Homo sapiens: one gene and its partner. The protein of the gene in region 1 interacts with the protein of each later gene in a biochemical or structural test. Each region holds a gene or a part of one and is shown on either strand. Other genes may lie near its edges. The genes, in order: CLDN1 and TJP2.

Evidence for each region.
Region 2: the proteins of CLDN1 (region 1) and TJP2 form a complex in vitro, tested with the Homo sapiens proteins (one study listed by BioGRID).

Annotation. Positions count from the first base shown.
Region 1 is NC_000003.12:190,310,388-190,322,514, forward strand, and holds the start of CLDN1 (claudin-1), read right to left. Parts: upstream 12,060-12,127; 5' UTR 11,820-12,059; coding exon 11,597-11,819; intron 4,673-11,596; exon of another isoform or gene 4,506-4,672; intron 2,650-4,505; coding exon 2,485-2,649; intron 1-2,484.
Region 2 is NC_000009.12:69,230,664-69,242,790, reverse strand, and holds part of TJP2 (tight junction protein 2), read right to left. Parts: intron 8,353-12,127; coding exon 8,244-8,352; intron 6,764-8,243; coding exon 6,553-6,763; intron 5,843-6,552; coding exon 5,655-5,842; intron 4,914-5,654; coding exon 4,818-4,913; intron 4,082-4,817; coding exon 4,002-4,081; intron 2,855-4,001; coding exon 2,644-2,854; intron 1-2,643. UniProt on the Homo sapiens protein: Plays a role in tight junctions and adherens junctions. Acts as a positive regulator of RANKL-induced osteoclast differentiation, potentially via mediating downstream transcriptional activity.

The DNA of each region.
Region 1 (12,127 bases):
GGAGATTAGAAGTCCAGATATGATTTATTCCAAGTATCTATTAAAATATAAAAAAATACTAGGTTGGCATTAGACAAAATTTATACTTTTTTATGATATCTTGGCACAAATAATTCTTTTTTGGAAACAATTAGGCAGGTGTATGTTGTACAAAATCTCTTTTAAATATGCTGTTATACATTAGGATACTAAACTACATTTGATAAAACTATTGTCATTATTAGTACAGGTAGAATTACTTGCAAAAGGGGAAGATGAAAACTCTTCTATGTTCTTGATCAAACTCAAAATTTACATTTCTGCAGAGTCAAAAGGAATGCAAGCAGCTAGATAGAGTGAGATCAGGACATGTCTCAGAATGGACCAGAATACCTGCATTACTACTGCCCCATTGGCCAAGGGAATACCTGATATAGGTATAGGTTGGCCTGAGATTTGTTGAGGGTGCCACATCAGATCAATTTATGCAACCCAATCTCAATTTCCCATGGCATTTTATATTCAATGATAGCAGAGAAATCATTTAGTCAAAATCATTCACTTAATCATTTATAAGATGTATAAAATACTTCATTTTTTTATCAAAAAAGTTAAATAACTTTTTTGTAGTAATTCTAAGTATTCATCAATATAGATAGATTAGATGTTTCTATGCTACTGTCTCTCCCCAGCCAAAAACATGGTCCAATGTAATTGCCTCTAGACATGACAGAAAACACTATTGCTTTTGGCTTCTCAAATAGACCATGCGAATGGTCTTGAACTTGTGATGCTTACTCCTAAGAGAAGTCCCTGAAACTGGAATAGGAGTGATGCAGTCACATGTGGGAGTTACAAGAAGGCAAGCGAAGGAAGAATGCAATGCATTTCATCCTCATCGTCTTCCAAGCACTTCATACACTTCATGCCACGATGGCCACAAAGATTACTATTCGCAGCCTTTGATATAAGAGTAAATTATTGGGAATAAGACACTATCCATGCCTTTTCAGAGAGGAGTCAATTTGTATTTGGGTAAACTGAGAGACTGGTCATTTTAAACTAACCACATCTTTAGCAAAGCCACAGATACTCTTCCTCAATTACTGGTTAAACTGACATATTATACTGAAGCAAAAGCCCCTACAAGTCTTCTGTCAAAAAGAAAATAAGAAAATAAAGTCTATTCTAGTTTTTTTCTATTAGTAGATTTGTATCATTAATTATATCTGTTATTTTTTTAAAATAATATACTATAATATACTACATATATAATATATGCATCTAATACCTAATATAGAGAACATATAGTAGTCTATTATTATAGCTGTATAATTTATATGGAGATTATCAACATATATAACACAGTGTATAGATATAAAGATATATATATACACACAGAGAGATTGCATATGTATGTACATATACACACGTAAGTATACATACACTATAATTTTTTAAATAGGCATTATTATAAAGCTTTGAAATAATGCTGTCCATGTTTTCTGACTTTGATTTTCTCAAATGACACATAATGTAACTTATCAATCAACACTTGAATTAAAAAACAGATATTTCTTTTCTTTTCTTTTTTCTTTTTTTTTTAGACAGTCTTCTGTTGCTTAGGCTGGAGTGCAGTGGTGCGATCTCGGCTCCCGAGTTGAGGTGATTCTCATGCCTCAGCCTCTGGAGTATATGGGATTACAGGCGTGCACCACCACACCCAGCTAATTTTTGTGTTTTCAGTAGAGATGGGGTTTCACCATGTTGGCCAGGCTGGTCTTGAACTCACGACCTCAGGTGATCCGCCCTCCTCAGCCTCCAAAAGTGCTGGGATTACAGGCGTGAACCACCACACCTGGCCTAAAAAACACGTATTTATTTTAAATGGAAAATATAATATTATTTTATCAAAAAAATTTAAAGGTATTTCTGTATTTTTTTTTTCCTAACTGCTTTAAACTGACCATTCCAACAGGCCACCTCTACTCCAGTTGGCCTTTCTTTTCATTGATCTACAGGCACATCCTGTTTATTCTCGAATTAGATCTGCCCAGCTGGAATGCTATCCTTATTTTTCTCCAATAATCCCAATCCTTCCATCCCTCACAGACCTGAAGGGTTCACATATTCTTGTGTTTTCTCTCACTACTCCCCATCTTTTCCACATAGTATCTGTGGAGACACCATAGGAATTATCTGAATTACATGAACTTCCTCCTTAGCGTTTGCTAAATAGTGAACAACTTTCTTCACTGGAAGAGACTGGTTCTAACAAACCAGTTGCCACTTGAAACTTCAACCAATAGACCTGTCAGATGTGAGCAGAGCTCTCACATTTTCATTTAGTTTGTGTTTGAGAACATGAAAGTCAACTGGACTTCAGGTCTATGTTTGCAGTTTGCCTTAGAGACTGAAATCAAGTATAATGAATCCAACGTAATAGATTTCAAATCATACCAGGAACAGGTTAGTAAGGTGAAAGGGGGGCACAGCCTCTATTACCTGCAAGAAGAAATATCGCACCCCCAATGACAGCCATCCTCATCTTCTGCACCTCATCGTCTTCCAAGCACTTCATACACTTCATGCCAACGGTGGCCACAAAGATTGCTATCACTCCCAGGAGGATGCCAACCACCATCAAGGCACGGGTTGCTTGCAATGTGCCTGGCAGAAAACATTTTAAAACATGTAAAAATATGCTTGGACCAACAAGAGAAAAATGGAAGAAGACCAAGTATATGTCACTGTTGTATGGAAGAGAGAAAACTGGACTAGGAATCTAGAGACCCCAGTCATACTGATGTTTCCGCTGGTAACCCAATATACAGTATCTTCTCCAGAAAAACAAATGCCAGGCTGGATGATGAAAAAGAGATCCCTCCACTCCAATATTTTATGTTTCCAACATTAAATTCAAAATCAACTGGAAAATTAATTAATGATCTAATTGAATAGGGTTAGCTGAACTAATACATATTTATTTTTTACTAAGGGATTTTCATCCTTGCTAAGATAATTTTAATTTTAAGTAACAATCATATATACTATCCTGGATGTTAACTATTTGTAATCAAAATGGTTTACAGTATATCTTTGATATTAGTCACCAGCTTTACACCCCAATCAATAAGCTTCAGAAAAACTGGATGAATTGGAAGATAAAAAATAAATGTTTTATAGATTATCATGGCTGGATAAGCAGTATTTGTATCTCCAGTGATGTGAATAGGAGGAGTGGGGAAGAATATAGAAGTCATTTTCTTAAAACTAAACAAAATAACCTTTGAGATGTTACCTTGGGACATAGTAGTAGATTCATATTCAAAGACATCACTAGTTTTTTAAAACTATTTAAGCTGCCATGTTGTAAAATAGCACACACAATAATTCAATGTAGTGTTTCTCAGGATTCCATTTTTTCTAATTTCCCATCATTATTTTTGGTGTACTAACTCATGATCAAATAAACAGGGTCAAGTTTGAGACATTATCACTATGTTTCTTAAAGAGTAAAAACTTGATGCCATCATTGTGGCATAAAGGCACAGATTTTTAAATATGAACTGAAACTATGCTGGTTAGAAGATTTTGTTTAAATTCTAGATTTATGTCCTCCTTTAATTAAAGATCACTATATCATTGACAGTGATAATATGTGACAAGTGTTTTTTGCATATATAAGTATTTTTTAGCTTTAACAAACTGTGCTATCTTGAGCAAGAAACTTAGTATTGTTTGGAATAATATTTCAATTATATAAGTAAAATGTAAATTATATCTTTATCCAGTGGATTGGAACAATTGACTCCTTGATGGTCTTTAAAAGTGGCTGAGATGTTGGAAAGGTTTTGTATCTCAATATCTAATCAGGCCTAGGCTTAGTGTTAATATTGTCAAGATTGAGAACTTAGGTCACCAATCATAATTGAAGCTAAATATTTCTAAAACTTCATTAAATCTTGATTTACTGATTTTCTGTCTTTGCTATAACCAGGCAATCTATGATAAAATTATAGTAATCTCTTTATTTTTCTTTTTTTGAGATAGAGTCTTGCTCTGTTGCCCAGGCTGGAGTGCAGTGGTGCGATATGGGCTCACTGCAACCTCTGCCTCTGGGGCTCAAGCGATTCTCATCCCACAGCCTCCTGAGTAGCTGGGACTGCAGGCACGAACCACCATGCCTGGCTAAATTTTTTTTTTTTTTTGGTATTTAGTAGAGATGGGTTTCACCATGTTGCCCAGGATGGTCTCAAATTCCTGAGTTCAGGTGGTCTGCCCACCTCGGCCTCCCAAAGTTCTGGGATTACAGACGTGAGCCACTACGCCTGGCCATAATCTCTTTCTAAAAAGTATCAAAGGTATTGTTTACAGTATTTGAGAGATATTTTTGAAGCCAAGGTTAAGTTTTACTTGATTTCATTTAAAAATAAAAAAGAGACTTCCTGATTCCCCTCACACACTGACCTCCTCATAAGCATGTATGGGCACACATGCACACTGACCCACACACTTATCTCAAGATTCCAGGTGGCAGAGGAACTGCTGGATCAAAACACATGTTCCACGGACCACAGGTTTACCAGGAAGGAACTGAAGCTGCTTGTAAGGTTATTACACAACTTTTTCCTTGGAATCACAAGCCATACTGTGGTATGAAGAGGAAAGTACCAAGGGCTCCATGGTTAAGGTATGTCCTCTTTCTGATGGATGGTTTTTGCAAAGGCTATCATTATTGGGAAATAACAAATAAAATAACTAAACCCATACATAACACAGATTTCAGATGTGGTCCTAAGATTACACTTGGCAGGAAAATATTTCAGGCAGAGATATGCCTGAAGAGGAGATGCTGAAAGTAACAAAGATGATCCATGTCTGGAGGATAGGGAAACCACATATCTCAGTTTGCCTGGAACAGTCCTAGCTTTAAAGTTTAAAGTCCTACATCCTTAGAAGGCTCTCAATCCTGAACAAATTGGGAGAGCTGGTCATCCTAACGCAGGATGATAGGATGTGCAAAGTAAAACGAAGTTTAGCAAGGTGGGCAGAAGGCATATGTCATGCAGAACTTCGCAAATTAGGGTAAGAAGATGGATTCTATTCTAAGTATAATCAGAAGTCATATGATTATCTTGAGAAAGGGGCGACATGATTTTTACTGTCAGCATAGAGATCACACAATCAATAAATATTTCTATGACAGCACTTCAAGCATCTATAGCATCTTACATTTCACAGCCTCCTCCATTTTATTTTTTCATAAATACTCTTTTTCAACCTTTTATTAATCATTTTAGATGTTTTCTCTGATCTTGCTCCAAGTTTTTCTCTTTGTTCAAGTTGTGGGGCCCCAAACTGGACCAGTTTATAGAATAATCACACTGATCTTTTCTTCAAGTAAAAACAGAAGGTCACTTGCCCAGCAGGTCTGAGCACTTAGATCGCAGAGTAGTCTTCAAGAGAAGTCTAACTGGGCATCAATCTCATGAGTCGGACTGTGTAAAACCCCTGATCTCCCAGGCAAGGAACACATGTGCATAAACTACTCCAGGGCCCTTACTGCACCCACCTGGAATGACCTAATATTCACATTTTTAATCTCTAAGTTTTTGCCCATTAAGTTCTCAAAGAAAACACATTTGATTCGTGTCAAATCTATCTTGCCACTTCATCTACAAAGTGTTCTTTCCAAGGGGCTGGGGACTGATATTCTGTTCTATGATTGCTAAGAAACCTATCAGGTTTCATTTCTCTATAGAATAATATATTATTTGCATAATACACAAAAAGTAATGGAGAAAATGGAAAACACAATATTTAAAAATTGCATAAACCATAGAAATGAGATCCTGCTTTGTTTTTTAAAATGTCGTTTTGCAAAGTAATATTTTCACTTACATCCTGGCAACTATTGACTTATACAATTTATTTGTATGTTCCAATATTAGATTTGCATCAAACCCAAAATCTTGCTTTGCTTCATTGGAGATATTTGGATAAATTCTTAAGTATAGTTATATGTGAGGAAAATGCAAAAATAATATACACATGTAGTCACGCACAAAAAGCTGAGAATTAAAACAGCACGAAAACTCACAAGCAAGGCGTAGGTAATGATAGGTTACCAGTCAAAGTAAGCAACTATTGTGTTACAAGTTACAAGTGTTTTATGTGCAGATCAAATCTAAATTGCACAGTTTTAAGCCGGAAACAGATGAATACCTTCACATCATAGAAGTGTTTTAAATCAGATTTGTAAAGTATGTAATCATGAACTCCTGGATGATTTGAGTCAGATATTTATTCCTATTTCCATCTAAAGCACCAAGCACAGTACTTGAAAAGTCACATGGATTTATCAAATTTCAATAAATTTAAATTAGAACATGTCTTTATCCTTTAAAAATCTGTACCAATATGATAGGTAAAAATACTTATTCTCTTGTGTTTAGCTTAATTTTTGAAATAATACTGAGAAATACCTCCCTTGAGAGCCTGGTATGCTAAAATCTTGCTACTAAAAGCCAGACTTAGCTTAGGTCACTGATAACTAGAAACTCATGCAGATAATACAAATTGTACTTTTTGCTTATTTTGATCTATTTTTTAAAGTATGTATCTAATGAGCTTCAAAGCTTAAGTTTTGTTTCTTTTTGCCCTAATGGAATGATGAGTGGCAGAGCAGAGAAGTTAAAAAGGATGTTTGAAAGCTATAAAACAACAATTTGGATGAGATAGATGTTGTATAGCCTTGCAATATTAACTTTGAATTGGTCTGATTAGAACAAACCTAGGAACAAACATATTCCTTTTCTCACCTCTTAAATTTGCAGCTAAATCTACAATATTATGACCACTGACTAAAGTTGTCTATGGAGAACCTGGTTAGCAAACATTAAAAAAATTACACTATTTTTTCTCATCATTATTCAGCAGTAAACACAGAAGGCAGTCTTTTAATTATATTTAGCTAGACTGACAATCTTGAGATTAAAGACCCCCTAAGGAGTTCTCATCATTTTCCACCTGAAAGTAGAATTAAAAGTAAATACTTACAAAGATCTCTACTTATAAGACAAGAAGTGAGTTGGAAGTTACTGATCTACTACACTTAGGTTAATCAACAAATGTGTAGAAAGACAGACATATATGTAATTTTTCTAAAGCTTGAAAGTCTTGCTACACAAGTAGTAGAATCTACTATCAATACCAGACATTGTTTATGCTATTTTCTAGCCATATTACCTTAGGTTCTATATATCATAAACAAAATATAGTCATCTCTTGGTATATAAGGGTGATTGGTTCCAGGACCACCCACAGGTAACTAAATCTGCACATGCTCAAGTCCTACAGTTGATCCTGTGGAAGCCTTGTATACAGAAAGTCAACCCTCCCTACATGCAGGCTTTGGACTCTCAGATACTGTATTCTTGATCGGTATTGGTTGAAAGAAATCCACCTATAAGTGGACACTTGCTGTTCAAACCTGTGTTGTTCAAATGTTGACTGCAGATTCCAATTCTCCCTTTGCATCTGTAGTTGCTTAATAAGTATTAAGTGAATAAATGAACTGATGATTGGGTGACTAGAACAAAAATATTGTGCTTCCTTCTCCCCTGCAATTAAATGAGCTCAACACAGACAGTCACAGAAGTGTACTCCCCTGGCTTTTCTCCATATTAAATCTTTTACTTTTACGGAAGTTCAAAGTTTCATAAAAGTCCTAATCATTAGCATTTCCCTCTTATTGGTGCATGAGGTGATGGTCACCAGATGTGAACTCAGAACATAAGCAAAATCAGGAGTGAAAATGATCCTGGATGAGGCAGGATGTACCACTTTTCAGGATGTCCTCAGAAGTTTTGCTACCTTTCTTGTTTGTGTGTTTCTTCAAGAAATTTTCTCAGAATTAAGTTGATGCTTCTATATTACCTCCATTATATTTCCTTAATCACTCCAATTAAGGAAACCTAAGCTATGTGACTTGCCTCTTCCCCTTCAATCACTGAAGTAATAACAAAGAATTCTGGCACTGGAAGGAATCTTAGAACTCATCTTAGCTGCACCATCCTTAGCAGCAAGAATAGGGCCTAGCTTGCATCTGTTGAATGGATAAACGAATCATAGATTCATCTCCCCATTCCTCCCACTCTGCCCTATTTTATAAGTGGGGTAACTACTTGAAACCAGGGAGATCAAGTGGCTCACCATTATACACTTGGCTACTTAGTGCCAAACCACAGTAAGAACAGAGAATTTCTGATCTCAAGCCTGGATTTTTGCTTCAACTTCCATTATTCTAAGAGTCAGAACTAATTTATGAAGTATATCTGAACACCAATGGCCCTTCGAGTACCCTCGGTTCAGCAGGCACAACGCATCTGGAGAAGCATAAATAGGTGCCCTCCTCTCCACTTAGGCTTCAAAGACTGTCCACGTCAGTGATTTTGTCTCTCTGATTGAGCCTGACATCATGGTGAGAGTGCTGGGGAAGCTCACAGCCACCAATACTCATTAAGCACACCTACACACATGTGGATTCATGCAAAGCAAGTTAAACAGGCTAGAGGAGCTTATAAACAAATTACAGAATCTCAGGGTTCGGTGAGATTGAGAGAGAGTCTAGCCTAACCTCCCATTTGTCTGGTGCTTGGATCTTCCCTACAACATTCCTTCAAAATGCTTATTTATTCTCTGCTTGCACACCTCCCACCATGCAGCCTCCTACAGCAACTCAATCTTTGGACAGCTCTAGCTATTAAAGTCAAGTAAGAAGAAGCATTTAAGCAAGCACATAAAATTGGCGCGAGCTTCCTAAAAGTTTGAGAATTAGATGAAAACAAGGCGAGAGGTACAGGTGAATCAAGAAAAGTCTACTACAACTGTATCTGGCACTTTTTGTATATTCCAACTTTCAGCTACAAGAATCCCCAGGGTCAATAAAATCACATACTTTGGATGAAATGGAAATTGTATCAGCCATTATAAAACTACAATACACAATGTGACATTTGTTTCCCCAGGAAGTGCCTCAGTTACATTTTCATAAACCGCTTGGCAAGAACTACCTAAAAGAAGAAGCCTTGCTCTATCTCATTTTGTATTTACTGTATACACTATTAGCACACTGTATTCCTTCAGATACTTTATGAAGGTCATATGCTTTTTATGACCTACCCTACATAAAGCAGGGAAACAACAGATTTTAATACTTCCCGTGCTAAAGCCCTGCATCTGGCCGGGAAGACAAGTGTGCTCTACTGGGAAAGACGGCAAGGTACAATTTCGGGAAACCCACAGCTAAGCTTTTCACCTAAACACACTTAATGAAATGCAGCTTTTTTCTGAGTGATACTGCTTAAATATACACACATAACCCTTTTCATCTCTACATGTAACAAAACTGTACCAAAACCAGCCAATGAATCACCATCCCAGATCTCTACAGCTGGTGGGCGTAAACACCACTGCTCAGGCAGAGAAATGAAGTAAGGTTTCCTGGGTTCTATCCAAAAGCATCCCGTGAGTCACGGCAGGTGAGAGGAGAACACCTGTGAGTCAAGGGTCCCTCTTCTGAGAATGGGTTTTGAGAGAAAGGCCTAAGCCACACCTTGGATAAACTATGGCTTTAAGTAAAATAAAAGTGGATTCTGATCTGGAGTTTTAAAAAAATAGGAAGACATCTCTAAAGTGTGTGTGGGGGGGTAGGTATTTAGTCCTTTCACCCTAGTTTTAAAAACTGTAATAACTACATTAACCAAAAAATGAAAGTAAAACATTTTAACACATTATCATGTGTAAGGATGATCCATTTGAGTATTTACAACATAGATCAATCTGATTTCATTTGGTCATTTCAGGAAGTTAAAAGAAAACCTATTTAAAGATGTTGAAAAGGAACTATTTTGATCAGAGGAATAAAACTGACAGTGAGACCTCTCTGGAATTGTCCTTAGAAACCTCCACCTGCCAATTCCTTAACGTGGTACCTAAAATGCCTGACACCGTTTCCTTAAATATATTTATCTTTCCATGGAGAAATTCAATAATTATTACCAAATTTTTCATTTTATAAGTACAAATATAACCCCTGAGGGCAATGAGCAACACATAATTACTAAACTTATGGATTGGTTTTGGTGTAAAGAAGTCCTGATATGAGAACCTTCAAAAGCTGAAATAATAACACTCAAAACAACCATGCACATTGACTGAGCAAATGCCACAGGTATTCAAGGTGTTCAAACAGATTTGGAACAGGTTTAATAACTCTAAACTATATGGCTTTTGATATACACTATTAAAAGTTGTCCCTTGATAGGAGGTAGACAAAACAAGTTAAGTAAACTTGAACAATGCCAACACTTTTCACCCTTAGCATGCAATGGGGGCCAGTGGGCAGTCACGTTCATCTAGGCAAAGACTAAGGGATCTTTTCTTCAAGTGAGTTAAAGGGCATAACAGACACATGATATAAGACAATTAATGTGATTTCTCAAGGAAGATACTCCAGCCGTGAATCATTATTATCTAAGTAAATGGGAATTTAATGACTTTTCGGACAAGGAACTCGAAACCTTTAATTTAAAAAACAAAGTAAAACAATTATCCTATTATCCTTCTTCCCACCATCCTTAGAAATATGTCTCTCTATACAATCCTTTCCAGTTTTACAGGGGGTCACTGAACATCCATTACACAGAAATTTCTTTGTGGAAGATGGAAACCTAAGGAAGACCCACCTCTTCTTTCTCTCTCACTGCCTTCCACTCCCAGCTGACCTCTGATTTCATCAGCTATGACTATTTTGCTGCATTTCCCTTCAGTGCCTTTACTTTTTTCTTTGTATTATGTTGCGCAGGTTATTTAGAACCTTTCTTGTCAGCCTTTCCCCACCTGCCACCAACCTTCTCTTTCCAAGATAGCACTACACCGTCAGCCTCTACAGAAGACCTTGGGTCTGAAAATTAAAACTTCGGGGGAATCTCAAGCAGCTTCTCCAAAGAGTCTTGCAAGGGGCCTCCCTGCACTAACTGGATCTTATAAATTAAAAGAATCAACCTCAAGCATAAGCAGAAGACACTTAGATAGGACATTTCCAGTAGGAATGTAACTTTTACTATGAAAAAATCATATTAAAGGTTAAAAAGTTATATCTAATACTTGAGGATTATTTATTTAAGCGTGCACACTTGAGAAGTTACCAGGCTTCAAACTTTTTCAGTCATCCCATTTTCTTGTCTGAACTCTACCAATCCTCAATTTACCCCAAATCTCGGAATGCCTAGGAGAGGTCTAAGAGCTCAAGTTCAAGTTTGGCCTTCACTCCCTCAACTCGAACCACCAGCATAGGAATTTAGGATGAAGCCACACCTAGAGTGGCAGAAGTGTCACCCAGGGAGTTAGAGGCAAAACTAGAGCTTATGCCTGGGCGTCGCTTTCCTCAAACCAGGATTCTCTTCATTTCCTTATGACAGAGCACATGATCAGAAGACTTGATCAACTGAAGACTGATAACCATGGAATCACACAACAGAATGAGCCCATAAGGGAGCTGCAGGGGGACTGGGGCCTCTGGACGGCCGCTGTGAGGTGGGGGTGCACTCACTGCTCAGATTCAGCAAGGAGTCAAAGACTTTGCACTGGATCTGCCCGGTGCTCTGCGACACGCAGGACATCCACAGCCCCTCGTACATGGCCTGGGCGGTCACGATGTTGTCGCCGGCATAGGAGTAAATCCTCCACTGGGGCAGGGCAGTGCTGACGATGGCGCCGATCCATCCCAGGAAGGCGAGAATGAAGCCCAACAGCTGCAGCCCCGCGTTGGCCATGACTCGCTCGGGCGCCCGCGCTGGCTCAGGGGTGGCAGGTGCAGAAGGCGGAGAGTTTGCAGGTGGGCAACCCGGACTCCCGAAGGTGGCTGGGCCCCGCGGAGGAAGTTAAGGCGGGGAGCCCTGCTCGCTGCGCCGCCGCTGGAGAAGCTCTGGGTCGGGGTTGGGGTCCGCGCCCGGGGCGGCGCTGGAGTCTGGATACTAGAAGCTGCGGTTGCTCCCAGGCTCGGGAACTGAGACGCAGAACCGCTGGGCGCCGCGATTTAAAGCAGCTCCGCCCGCCTCAGCCCCGGCAGCCGGGGAGCGCC
Region 2 (12,127 bases), on another chromosome or scaffold:
CTCAAGTCAAAACCTGGTCAAGCTAAGAGGGACGAGGGTGAGATGGGGAATAAAAGCAATTATTAGTGCAGTCATCCACACAGCTGTAGGGAGTCAAACTTTGAAGTCTGGAAGAGTACTGTAAAAGACCACTTGCTAGAAAATTGGAGCTTGCTGGTCAAAGTTGCTGCACACCCTGCACCATCTATCCTGAAGACTGTACAATTCTACATAAGAGATTGGCAATTTCTGGTGAGATAAGATCACTTCAATGTTTTAGATGAAACTCAATGCTTACAGTGTGTGCTTCCATTCCAATCTCTGACTTGAGTTATTCTAAAACTTTCAACTTCCTGATGAGTTTAGGCAAGAAATGGCTTGGTGTGCCAGGGGCAGTTCTAATGTAAGTTACAAACATTTATGCCTTGCCCATGTGCTAGTCCTGATGCTGGCCTCAGGCACACAACGCTGGGAAATGTTCAGGCTCTGCCTTCAAGGATCTTGAAATCCATCTATGGAGCTAACAGAGGTGTTGCTAACCCCTTCTACACACATGGACCCCTCTAGATTCTTACTCACACTCAGCCAGCTACCGTGGCCTGTGCTCCCAAGAGCAAATGATGCGGACTCAGGTTAGATCAAGGGAGAGCCCCACAGTCACTGGCTGCCTTCTTCTGCCCTGCTCTCCTCGTCCAGCCGCCTTCAGCCTAGTTCTTCCTCTACAATGCACTGTAATTCCCTTCCCGATTTCCTACATCCTCACGTGAATCCCAAATTTAACTCTCTGAGGGAAGACGCTCGCTATTTAGTGTACTCAGACAAAAGCAGGGGGGAAAATAAAGTGGGGATAGTTTTAACTTCATTTATAATCACTTTGGCTTCAGTTTTTTAATCTGTCAAAAGGAAGGGCTGCATTACGTGACCCCTTTTGGGATTAGAATATGTCTGTGCTGTAACATATGTACAATATTGGACAGTTAGGGACGCTATAGTTTAGTCTGGGCTCAGTCATACATCAGAATTGTGATTATGCAAAAGTGCTGGCCTTTCTTATGGCCTAATAAGACAGCACACATGGAAGGCTGTACCACTCTTTACTGTTGCTATAATAGTAATAATCATAATAATTATAATACTAGTAGTAAAAAGGACAGAAAGGATATTCATAAATATACCAAGAGTATGAGTACGTAAGACTACATTCACAGAAATCTAGTTTATGATGGACCACTTCCTCCTCTGCATTTGGTTAAACTCTCTCCATTTGGCCACAGTGGCAAGTAGTGCACCTCTCTTTAACAAGAAAAACCAAGTTACACTAAAACAAGCATCTAATGTGAACACAATCATTCACCCCTTCCTCTCCAGTATCAGAGATACACTAAAATGACATGGGTGGATGATGATGGGCAATGAACTCAATGAGCTATCCTCATCCTAAGGATATCATATCCTTGCAGTCTCCTCGTGTTGCCCCAACAAAATAATGCCCTGCATGACCACAAAATTTATGTAACCCTTTAAAACTCTTAATAATCTCATATGCACAGAATTAATCATTTATATAGACAGTGCATATATTGTTACTAAAATATGTCATGTTCTTAGACCATTTTACTTTCATGAGTAATAGCAATGGCTCTTCATTTCATGGACTTAAAAATATATTCTATTAGGTAAATCTTTAAATATGTACAAAAGTACAGATAGCAGTTTAATGAACTCCGATGTACATATCAACCAGTTCAACAACTAACAACTACCAAGTCTTGGCCAGTCTTGTCCTGTCTATAATCCCATCTACTCCCCTCACTGCAGACTATTTAGGCAAATTCTCAACATTATATTAGGTCAACCATAAATATTTTATTTAGTATGCATTCCTCAAAGAACTTTGTTTTTAAAAAAATCACAATATTATTATCACACCTAACAAAGAGAAATAATAAATCTTTAAATCATCCAATATTCAGAGTGTCCAAGTTTCTAGATTTTTTTTTTTTTCTTTGAAGAGACAGGGTCTCACTCAGTCACCAGGCAGGAGTGCAGCAGTGCCATCACAGCTCACTGCAGCTTTGAATTCCTGGCTCAAGCGATCCTCCAACCTCAGCCATAGGCATGCACCACCATGCTAGGCCTTTTAGTAGAGACAGGATCTCACCATGTTGCTCAGGCTGGTCTCCAACCCCTGGGCTCAAGTGATCCTCCTGCCTTGGCCTCCCAAAGTGGGAGGATTACAAGTGTTATCCACCATGCTGGACAGGAATATTTTTAAATAATGAAACCAAGTTCCTTTCGCTTTGTAAGTTAATGCATGTATTGATGGTGAGTAGAGAACAATGACACAATCTCTAGAGAGACATAGGTGTTTGGCCTGGCTCAATCACTAGCCTTATAGTCTCACAGGAAAATATGAACTTCATCAAAATAGCTAATTATTACCACATCATGGATCTTTATGGTCATTTTCAAATAGACAAAATTACAAAGTTCAATATATAAATGCCATTGGCCTAATATCCCATTTTATAGGATTAACTATTTTTCAAGGAGTCATGAACACAATTTCAAATTCTCCATTCAGATTAATTAATTATTTCTTCTACTCTTCAATTCTTTATTTCTCATTTTTTAGCAAAGGGACTACATTTACATTTCACTTACCTGTAAAAAGGTGTGCACACGTTTTTTTAAGCTTGTTGGCTTGATCAAATAACTTTCGAGAACTTTTGTTGGACGTTGGATTTAACCTTTGTCTCATGGTTTTGACACCTTGTCTGGAGTCTGGGTTGAAAAAAATCACAATTGGGAACCACTGGGTGTAATTCAACAGGTCCACAGCTTTCGGAGTCACATCCAGTAGTGCATGCTTATCCTGTTTACAAAAGGGGAAAAGTTAGAGAAATGGATATATAAAGTAATATAGCATCAAATACTTTGTTTTAATAAGTAAAGGCTGTATGAGATATATCTTGTTTGTTTGTTTGTTTACTTATTTGGGATAGATTCTTGCTCTGTTGCCCAGGCTGGAGTGCAGTGGCACAAACTTGGCTCACTGCGACCTCCGCCTCCCGGGTTCAAGCAATTATCCTGTCTCAGCCTCCTGAGTAGCTGGGATTACAGGTGCCCGCCACCACCATGGCCAGCTAATTTTTGTATTTTTAGTAGAGACAGGGTTTCACCATGTTGGCCAGGCTGGTCCCAAACTCCTGACTTCAGGTGATCCGCCCGCCTCTGCCTCCCAAAGTGCTGGGATTACAGGCATGAGCCACCTATCTTGTAAATTTAAATCAAGAAGCAGAACACATTTCCTTCTACCTAATGCCCACTTCAATATTACCAATGTGTTAGAACTTCTGATAAAATGAATTAACACATTATTTGGTATAATGCTGGGAACTCTGGAAAAAAAAACAGTATGTTACTGCCAGAGAACAGTAACAGTGACTGGTTTCCACACAGTGAAATGGTTTGCATTTACATTATATATATATTTTTTTGAGATGGAGTTTCACTCTTGTCGCCCAGGCTGGAGTGCAATGGTGCAATCTCCGCTCACTGCCAACAGTGACTGGTTTCCACACAGTGAAACGGTTTGCATTTACATTATATATATATTTTTTTGAGATGGAGTTTCACTCGTCGCCCAGGCTGGAGTGCAATGGTGCAATCTCCGCTCACTGCAAACTCCGCCTCCTGAGTTCAAGCGATTCTCCTGCCTCAGCCTCCTGAGTGGCTGGGACTACAGGTACCTGCCACTGTGCCCGGCTAATTTTTTATATTTTTAGTAGAGACAGGGTTTCACCATGTTGGCCAGGCTGGTCTCGAACTCCTGACCTCAGGTGATCCACCCGCCTCAGCCTCTCAAAGTGTTGGGATTACAGGTGTAAGCCACTGTGCCCGGCCAATTTTTTATTATTAACATTTAATGATTAAAAGTACAGATACTATCCTAAAAGTGACTGCAGCAAACCATAATCTAATTCTTTCTGAAAACACGGTCTGTGGATGAATTTTCTCACCTGTTCAATAATTTGCCTCACGGTATTTAACCGGACCACTCCAGTGGATTTCTCAGATCCTGCATCTTTTGGTTCCGTTTCTGCAAAAGCAAAAACAGGAAGCTAAATAATTGTTTAGAAAACAGTGACAACCAAATACTCCCACCTAGCATCAAGCAATGATGGCACACCTGACATTAAGTGTCTCCTAACAAGATTCAGTGGGAAGGACCCACATAACCTGCTTAGTGGAAATCTAATCATGAAGAAACGGTTAGGCCAGTCCAACAGGAAGCATTCTAGGAGACAACTAGCTTGGATTCTTCAAAATATCAGTGTAACAAAGTTATTTAGAAAAAAGAGGGGACTGGAAAGACATAAAAATCACAAAAAGACATAAAAATCAAATGTCATGAATGGTCCTTGGTTGTATTCTGAATTTAAAAAAAAGCTATGAAGCACATAACTAGGACAATTAAGAAAACGTGGAAAATGGACTATATACAAAATCACACCACATCAATGTTACCTTTCTTGGCTGTGATAATGGTATTGCAGTTATGTGGGAGAAAGTCCTTGTTCTTAGGAGATTCACACAAGTATTCAGGGATAAAGTGTTATAAATGATTCTGCAGAAATTTTTCAAAGAGTATGTGTATGTGTGTGTGTATGTGTGTCTATGGTGCAGGCAGTGGGTGAGAGAAAATGCGTGACAAAATGTCAGCAACTGGTGATTCCAGGTGAAGGGTACGTGGGTGTTCATGATTCTTCCAACTCCTCTGTTAGAAATTTTTCAAAATAAAAATTTGGGGGAAAAAAAAACACTGACAGACTTACTAGCAGTTTGAAACCAGTCAGGTAACTCATTAGCCAATTTTTCCATTGCTATATCAGCTATGGGGCCGAATAAGACCACAGGTCTCTTGAAACCAGCTGAAATGACAAGAAAGGCCATTAAAGCATACACACTTGCCTAGCTGTTATGATAAGCAGTAAAAGTATTGTATGGGCTTTTGATAACATAACTAAACGAAAGAAACTGTGGTTTCTCCCCAATTCAGCTTGGCTCTGTTCTGAAGAATATGCCTTCACTATCCTCACCATTTAAAACAATTTTTTTCTTTTCATTCAACCACATGCTAACCTAGATTTTTTTTTAAGAGACAAGATCTCACTATGTTGCCCAGACTAAACTCAAACTCCTAGGCTCAAGCCTCCTGAGTAGCTGGGACTACACTGCCTAGCTCCTCACCATTTTTAAACACAAACTTTCCCATTGATAATATATGGAAACTTTTTTTATTTTTTGCAGAGATGAGGTCTTACTATATTGCCCAGGCTAGTCTTGAACTTCTGAGCTCAAGTGATCCTCCCACCTTGGCCTCCCAAAGTGCTACGATTATAGGCATAAGGTACAGTGCCCAGCCAATATACCGAAACTCTTGAACAGTGGTATTAAAACATTTTTTAAGTTGCAGAAATAAGCCTCAATTTAGGAACTGAAACAGCTTTTTATAAATCATGCTCCTTGTTAGAATTTGATTTCAACTCTATAAACTGCCTTTGGCATAACTGACATACATAAGTTAGAACTTGACCATACAGTCTGAAAATAAAGGTGAACAGGCTCAGAGCCCAGTCAGTTCATTTCCAGGCCCCATGTGACTTCCTCACCTTCTCGCAGCAAAACCCTCTCATAAGCTGGGAACTTGGTGCTGACAGACACAACAGCTGTGAGGTCTTCCCGACTTTTCCTCAGGTTCTTCTTCACCCCAGACCTCTGGCCACGCATTCTCCAGAAATCTGCCCGGTCCCCAGCGTTGTCTCTCTGGGCATTTTGAACACTGGCCATTTGTTCAGCTCTGAGAAGAAACCACGGGAAGTAAATCTCTAAAGCCAGAAAACGCAGCTAACATGCATTTCATTAATCAAATCCAGTCAATTTTACTTCTGAGCTCAGAGAAGATTCCGCTTGACAATGAAGAAGTTTCAGAGGGTGGGAAATGTGGGGACCTTCACTTCCAAATGGGAGCAGAAAAAGGCTGGGTCTCTGTGAAATCTCCCAGAAGTGGCTCAGCAATAAACATGTGAAATTTGGCCCATTCTGATATGCAGGTACACAGTACACACACCTGGAACTCCTGCTCAAATACAGGCCTCTTTTCTAGGTTCCTGCACTGTCAGCCAAACACCAAGTGTTCACTGGGGTGCATAAACCTCTCCAAGGATGGAGACTGGGCACCGGACAAGGGTACCTTGTCTCTAAGAGGTGTGCTGGTGTGCTACGGCCATTCAGTATATCTCTTGTATACGGTACAAGGCAGTGGATGCTCCTTAGGAAGTTGTTCAAACAGCCACATTCAGCAACCAACCACATGATGCTAAATTTACTCACAATAAACTGGCTGGTGGCTATTTACAGTTCAGGCCACTCTCCATAAACAAGAAATAGATGGTGACAAGTAATGAACTCATCATGTGGGGTTTCCTTTTACGGGGGAAGGGGGGCGGTCTCTAGTTTTCTGCAGGGGGAAGGATTAAAAGGGGTATGTGAGAATGCGATCTCTGTTACCTGCTCTTGTTGGGGATTAAGCCTTTCTCCAACTCGTTCCCAATCCTCACAGCCAGCCAGTTGCCCAGCTTGCCGTCATACAGTGTGTCTACCACTCGGAAGACCTCCCCTCTGGTGAAGGCCAGGCTCTGTGGAGTTTCCTTCTCACATTCAAAGTGGCTTCTTATAAAAAACGAATCCCCTCTGCCACAAGCCAGGATGTCTCTATACACTGAAAGACAAAAGCATCGTTTGTTGCATTCAGCTTAGTACAAGTTACAGTACTAGACACTCAACACAGCTTCTCCTATCTCTGATCTCCCCTTTACCTTCCTTCCATTCAGTGCACAAGTCCTATGGGAGTCACAGCTCCAACAGGAACAAGGACAAATAACCAGCTTCACGGCTTGCTGCAATGGTTAATTTTATTTCAACTTGACTGGGCCATGAAATAACCAGGTATTTGGTCAGACTTTATTCTATGCCTTTCTCTGAGGGTGTTTTTGAATGACAGTCACGTATAAATGGGTAGACTGAGCAAAGAAGATCGCCCTCCCCAATGCGAGTGGGCCTCATCCAATCAGTTGAGGGCCTGAAGAGAATGACAATCAGACCCCTTCTCAATTAAGAGGAAACTAGGCTGGGCGTGGTGGCTCATGCCTATAATCCCAGCACTTTGGGAGGCCAAGGTGGGTGGATCACAAGGTCAGGAGATCGAGACCATCCTGGCTAACACAGTGAAACCCCGTCTCTACTAAAAATACAAAAAATTAGCCGGGCGTGGTGGTGGGCGCCTGTAGTCCCAGCTACTCGGGAGGCTGAGGCAGGAGAATGGGGTGAACCTGGGAGGCAGAGCTTGCAGTGAGCCAAGATTGCTCCACTGCACTCCAGCCTCAGCGACAAAGCCAGACTCCGTCTCAAAAAAATAATAATAAATAAATAAATAAATAAATAAATAAATAAAAAATTAGGAGGAAACTACTCTTCCTGCCTGATGGCCTTCAAAAGGCGACATCAGCTCTTTTCCCTGACTTGGTACTGGAACTACACCATTGGCTCTCCTGGTTCTCAGGCCTTCAGACTGAGACTAGAACTAAATCACTGGCTCTCCTGAGTCTCTATCTTGCCCATTTTCACTGCAGATCTTGGCACTTGCCAGTCTCCATAATTATGTGAGCCAATTCTTTATAATAAATCTCTTTCTTTCCTATTGATTCCAATATCTCCTATCATTCTGTTTCTCTGGAGAACATTAACACAGTTGCCAATCAAGCTCTGAAGCAGACAAGGAGGACACTCTCAACACCCACTTAACAGATGGGAACAAGGCCTGGAAAGGTGAAACAACTTGTCAGACTGGACAGGGGTAACAGGCGCACCAGCCAGCAGCCATGGCCTTTGCACATGTCGTATGTAAACTCACTAATAACTCCAGGCAGAACATAAGGCTGCATCACTGTTCAGGAAGGCAGTTTTATTCCAAATTGACACAACTAGTAAAATTATTTCAGTGCATGCATAGAAAACATTTTTATGGAAAGTTAAACGGCACTCACATTTTCTTCACACACCTAGGGCCCAAGGACTAGGTGTTGAGATCCATCTCAATTTTTTAATACCCAGATTTGCCTATTCTGGTACCAAGACACCTCTCTCATCCTTCCCACTCCCCACCCCCACCCCAACTAAACTAAATGACCAAATTTGCTCACCATCGGCTCGGCTCTGAGCTAAAATGGTCACCATTTCACCTTTAGGGATTTCTAACAGGTAGAGAACGGCATCCTCCCGCACTAATCCTCTGAAATCCTGTGTGTTCACCTATTAGGAAGGAAAAACAGAAAAAGAAAAAAAAAAAAAAGAAAGAAAGAAAGAAAGAAAGAAAGAAAAAACAGAGAAGTTTATAGTAAGATGCCACTGACCCTTTTGTTTGTTTTCATCAGGGCCTGTCCAGAGCAAAGCCAAGATGCAAATGAGTCCTTAATGTCACTATTCAAGTCCTCGCGCCCAGCACCTTGCTATGGGCCTGCACACTATACCTTCCTGCCTCCCCATACTGCCAACCGCACCTTAGAGGTTAAGCCATTGAAGCAAGGATCTGTCACCAGATCACAATAGAATTTCTTGTGGTTGTTTCTATCCATCTCCCTTCTGTGAGTCTCTCACAGAGGTGGCCAAGAAGGTAATACACAAGTATGAAGCATGGGGAGTGTTGGGGTCTGTGACAACTGAGCATGCTGGCCCAGCATTTACACTAATTTTAAACTGGTTCAAATAAAAGTGTGCAAATAAAGACTCTGACCAATTCTACCCTTCTCCTATAGCTTCTATCACCTAAAAGTGTTTAACATGTGTTTATAAAATTGAAAGGTATGTATCAAATTAAAGAGCATCAGCCTTACAGTTACAAAGCAAGTAAAATTGAAATGTAGCACAAAGAACAAGACATTTTGAAATCATAGTGCTATGTGGTTTTTTTTTTTGAGATGTAGTCTCCCTCTGTCGCCCAGGCTGGAGTGCAATGGCGCGATCTTGGCTCACTGCAACCTCCGCCTCCTGGGTTCAAGCAATTCTTTTGCCTCAGCCTCCCTGAGTAGCTGCGACTACAGGCATGTGCCACCACACCCAGCTAATTTTTTTTGTATTTTCAGTAGAGACAAGGTTTCACCATGTTGGCCAGGCTGGTCTCGAACTCTTGACCTCAGGTGATCCGCCCACCTAGGCCTCCCAAAGTGCTGGGATTACATGCGTGAGCCACCACGCCTGGCCCATAGTTCTGTATCTTTCAGCCTATTTTAAAACAGAATTATAAATAAGTAAAATGCAAAAACCATATTAAAGTACCTGATATGTTAATAATATTTTGTAGAAATAAAGATATAAAATTCCTATGAAATATTTTCTTCAGTCATTGACAATTACAGAATCCTTTTAATCACAAGAGTAATGCTTTATTAAAGAAGAAACTTATCCTTAGTTGGGTGGGCCTTAATTAAGGCCAAAATTTATGATTAAGTGAAAGTCGGCATTAGACTAAAACTAATTTGGTGCTTTTAAAATAAAGTGATGTGCTAAAGCAATTGAGTTAATTTTTCCTTTGAAACAGTATTTAGTATTTAAGGTACTGTCATTTGTACCTCTCTGTCCCCCAATTAGGAATCATCCCATTTTGGTATCCTTTCTTGTGCCATTTGTTTATCTACATCTGTATCTACATATAGCCATATGTATATTTTCACATGTACTATACATGCTTGTATTTGTTTACTTAAATAAGACAGGGCCACAAGGCTGTGGGAGGACCTTGGGAGTCCTTCAGTCCATCTCTCTGGCCACAAGAGATTAACCTTAGATCAGTCTCGATCACAGTCTTCGATAGCCAAAAACTATAATGGTCAAAATTAAAGCACACATGGTAGTTATATTTTAAAAATCTACATGGTTAATAACCAAACTTAGAAGTCTTTTTTCTCTTTTCCATCCCATAAAAGTTTCTGAAAGAGAAATGACAACTCTATCAGATAAATAACAAGCAAAGAGGTAGTTCAGCCAAGCAGGAATGAGCAAAAGCACATATATCTCCATTATTGATAAGGAATATACATATCTGGCTCACGTCTTCATTCCACACATTAGGCTGTCACCTTTGCAAAACAAAGAGCCACACTTAAAAACCCCACAACAGAATAAAGTGATTAGCATGTGTATAAGGCTCACTTTATATATTCAATTTGGCCATGAAAAGGAGCATTGAAACAAATTAAAGTGAAAAAAGGCTAGGGCAGCACTTTTCTACTTGAAGGTTACATTGAACAGTCCTTTCCAATAAATATCCTCTTTGATTAGCTATTTAGTAGTCTACAGGGTCTAGCCGTGTCTGCTGTGAGCCTGAAGAGGATCCTGTATCAGCCACAGCTTAGTATTGTGCAGCAGCTTCTCCGCCCTCGTAGGCAAACTCAATCTTTTTCACCCCTTTCTAGAACGGAAAGCTTCTTTTGTAGTCAACAGAAAATTTATTCGCACCCAAGAAATGAGGACCACCTATTGCCTGACCTCCATATGGGATGACAGCAAAAGAAGCCAGTTCCCAGAGTTCCTTCCGTGTTGCCAGGGTGATAACAAGAAACAAAACACCTTAAGTATAAATGCTGATACCATGACTTTTTATCCACCAAAGCGACTCTCCCCATCTAACAACAACTTACAGAGAGGTCTGACTGCCAAGCCTCTAGGTGAATTCACTACTTTTCTTCACGGAAATTTAGAAAATCTCCCAGCCCCTGAACATACGAAAATATTTTATCATTGAACCTTAATGAGCAAAAGCTCCACATTTCTAGCTATCATCCTATGGCCTCACAATAGTTAGAAAAAATGCCTTTTTCCTTCATCAGCATATATGCAAAGAGTAAACTGGTATGAGCTGGCACTCAGATGGGTTTTCATCAGTAACATTTGGTGAGTGGTATTTCCTAGGATCATAAGGCAACATGAGGTTCGTGCAGGTACATAGTCTTCTAGATCCTGACCAGGGCCAAGGAGGGTCTAGAATTTCACTGAAAAGCTTTTGCAAAGCTCATGATCAAGGTTTGCCCTTCATCTGCTCCAGAAATGAAATCTGAAATACTGCAACGGGGCCAAGAAGGAAGGGGGCCACCTGCTTTTGTACTTTGCTGCTGCTTGCTTCCTTGAGAATTCTAGAACTTTTTTCTCCCCTCTCCTTGGAGCCTAGAAGCCCCTACCAGACCCCTTAGTTTACTACATATGGATTTTTTACTAACATTAACAAGAAAAAAAAAACCTCATATATATGAACTGCAAGTTTGCAGAAGCAGGAAGAAATTCCAATGAAGACAGTTCCCAGCCGGGCGCAGTGGCTCACGCCTGTAATCCCAGCACTTTGGGAGGCCAAGGCATGTGGACTGCTTGAGCTCAGGAGCTCGAGACCAGCCTGGGCAACATGATGAAACCCTGTCTCTACTAAAAAGACAAAAATTAAGAGTTCACCTGTAATCCCAGCTACTGGGGAGGCTGAGGACTAAGAATTGCTTGAACCCAGGAGGCGGAGGTTGCGGTGATCTGAGATAGCACCACTGCACTCCAGCCTGGGTGACAGAGCGAGACTGTCAAAAACAAAAAAAAACAAAAAAAACAGTTCCCTAGTACTCTATATTTTTATTGTAAGGAGATACTTGATGTTCTTGAAATTTATTCCGAAGTCAACAAAGAATGCTACACACACACACACACATACACAAATGTCAAGTTGAGTTATTTTTTAATTCCTTAACAGATTATACAAACACATAGTAATTTTAAAAGTATCAATATTTGATTAACCAGGAATTCCCTTTCTTGGACAATTTTAGATGTAAATAACATTGAGTAGCAGCTATTTGTTATCTTCCAATAAGAAAAAAGAATGGACACTCACCTTCCTATTCTGTGCCAGGGAACTCTGCTAGGTGCCTTGTAAGTGTTACCTGGTCTAATCTTCCCACAGTCCCTGCGAGGCAGGTATTCTCATCCCCATTAAACAGATACAGAAACCTGAGTCTCAGGGTGAACCAGGGTCACAGAACTAATCAGAGGCTGG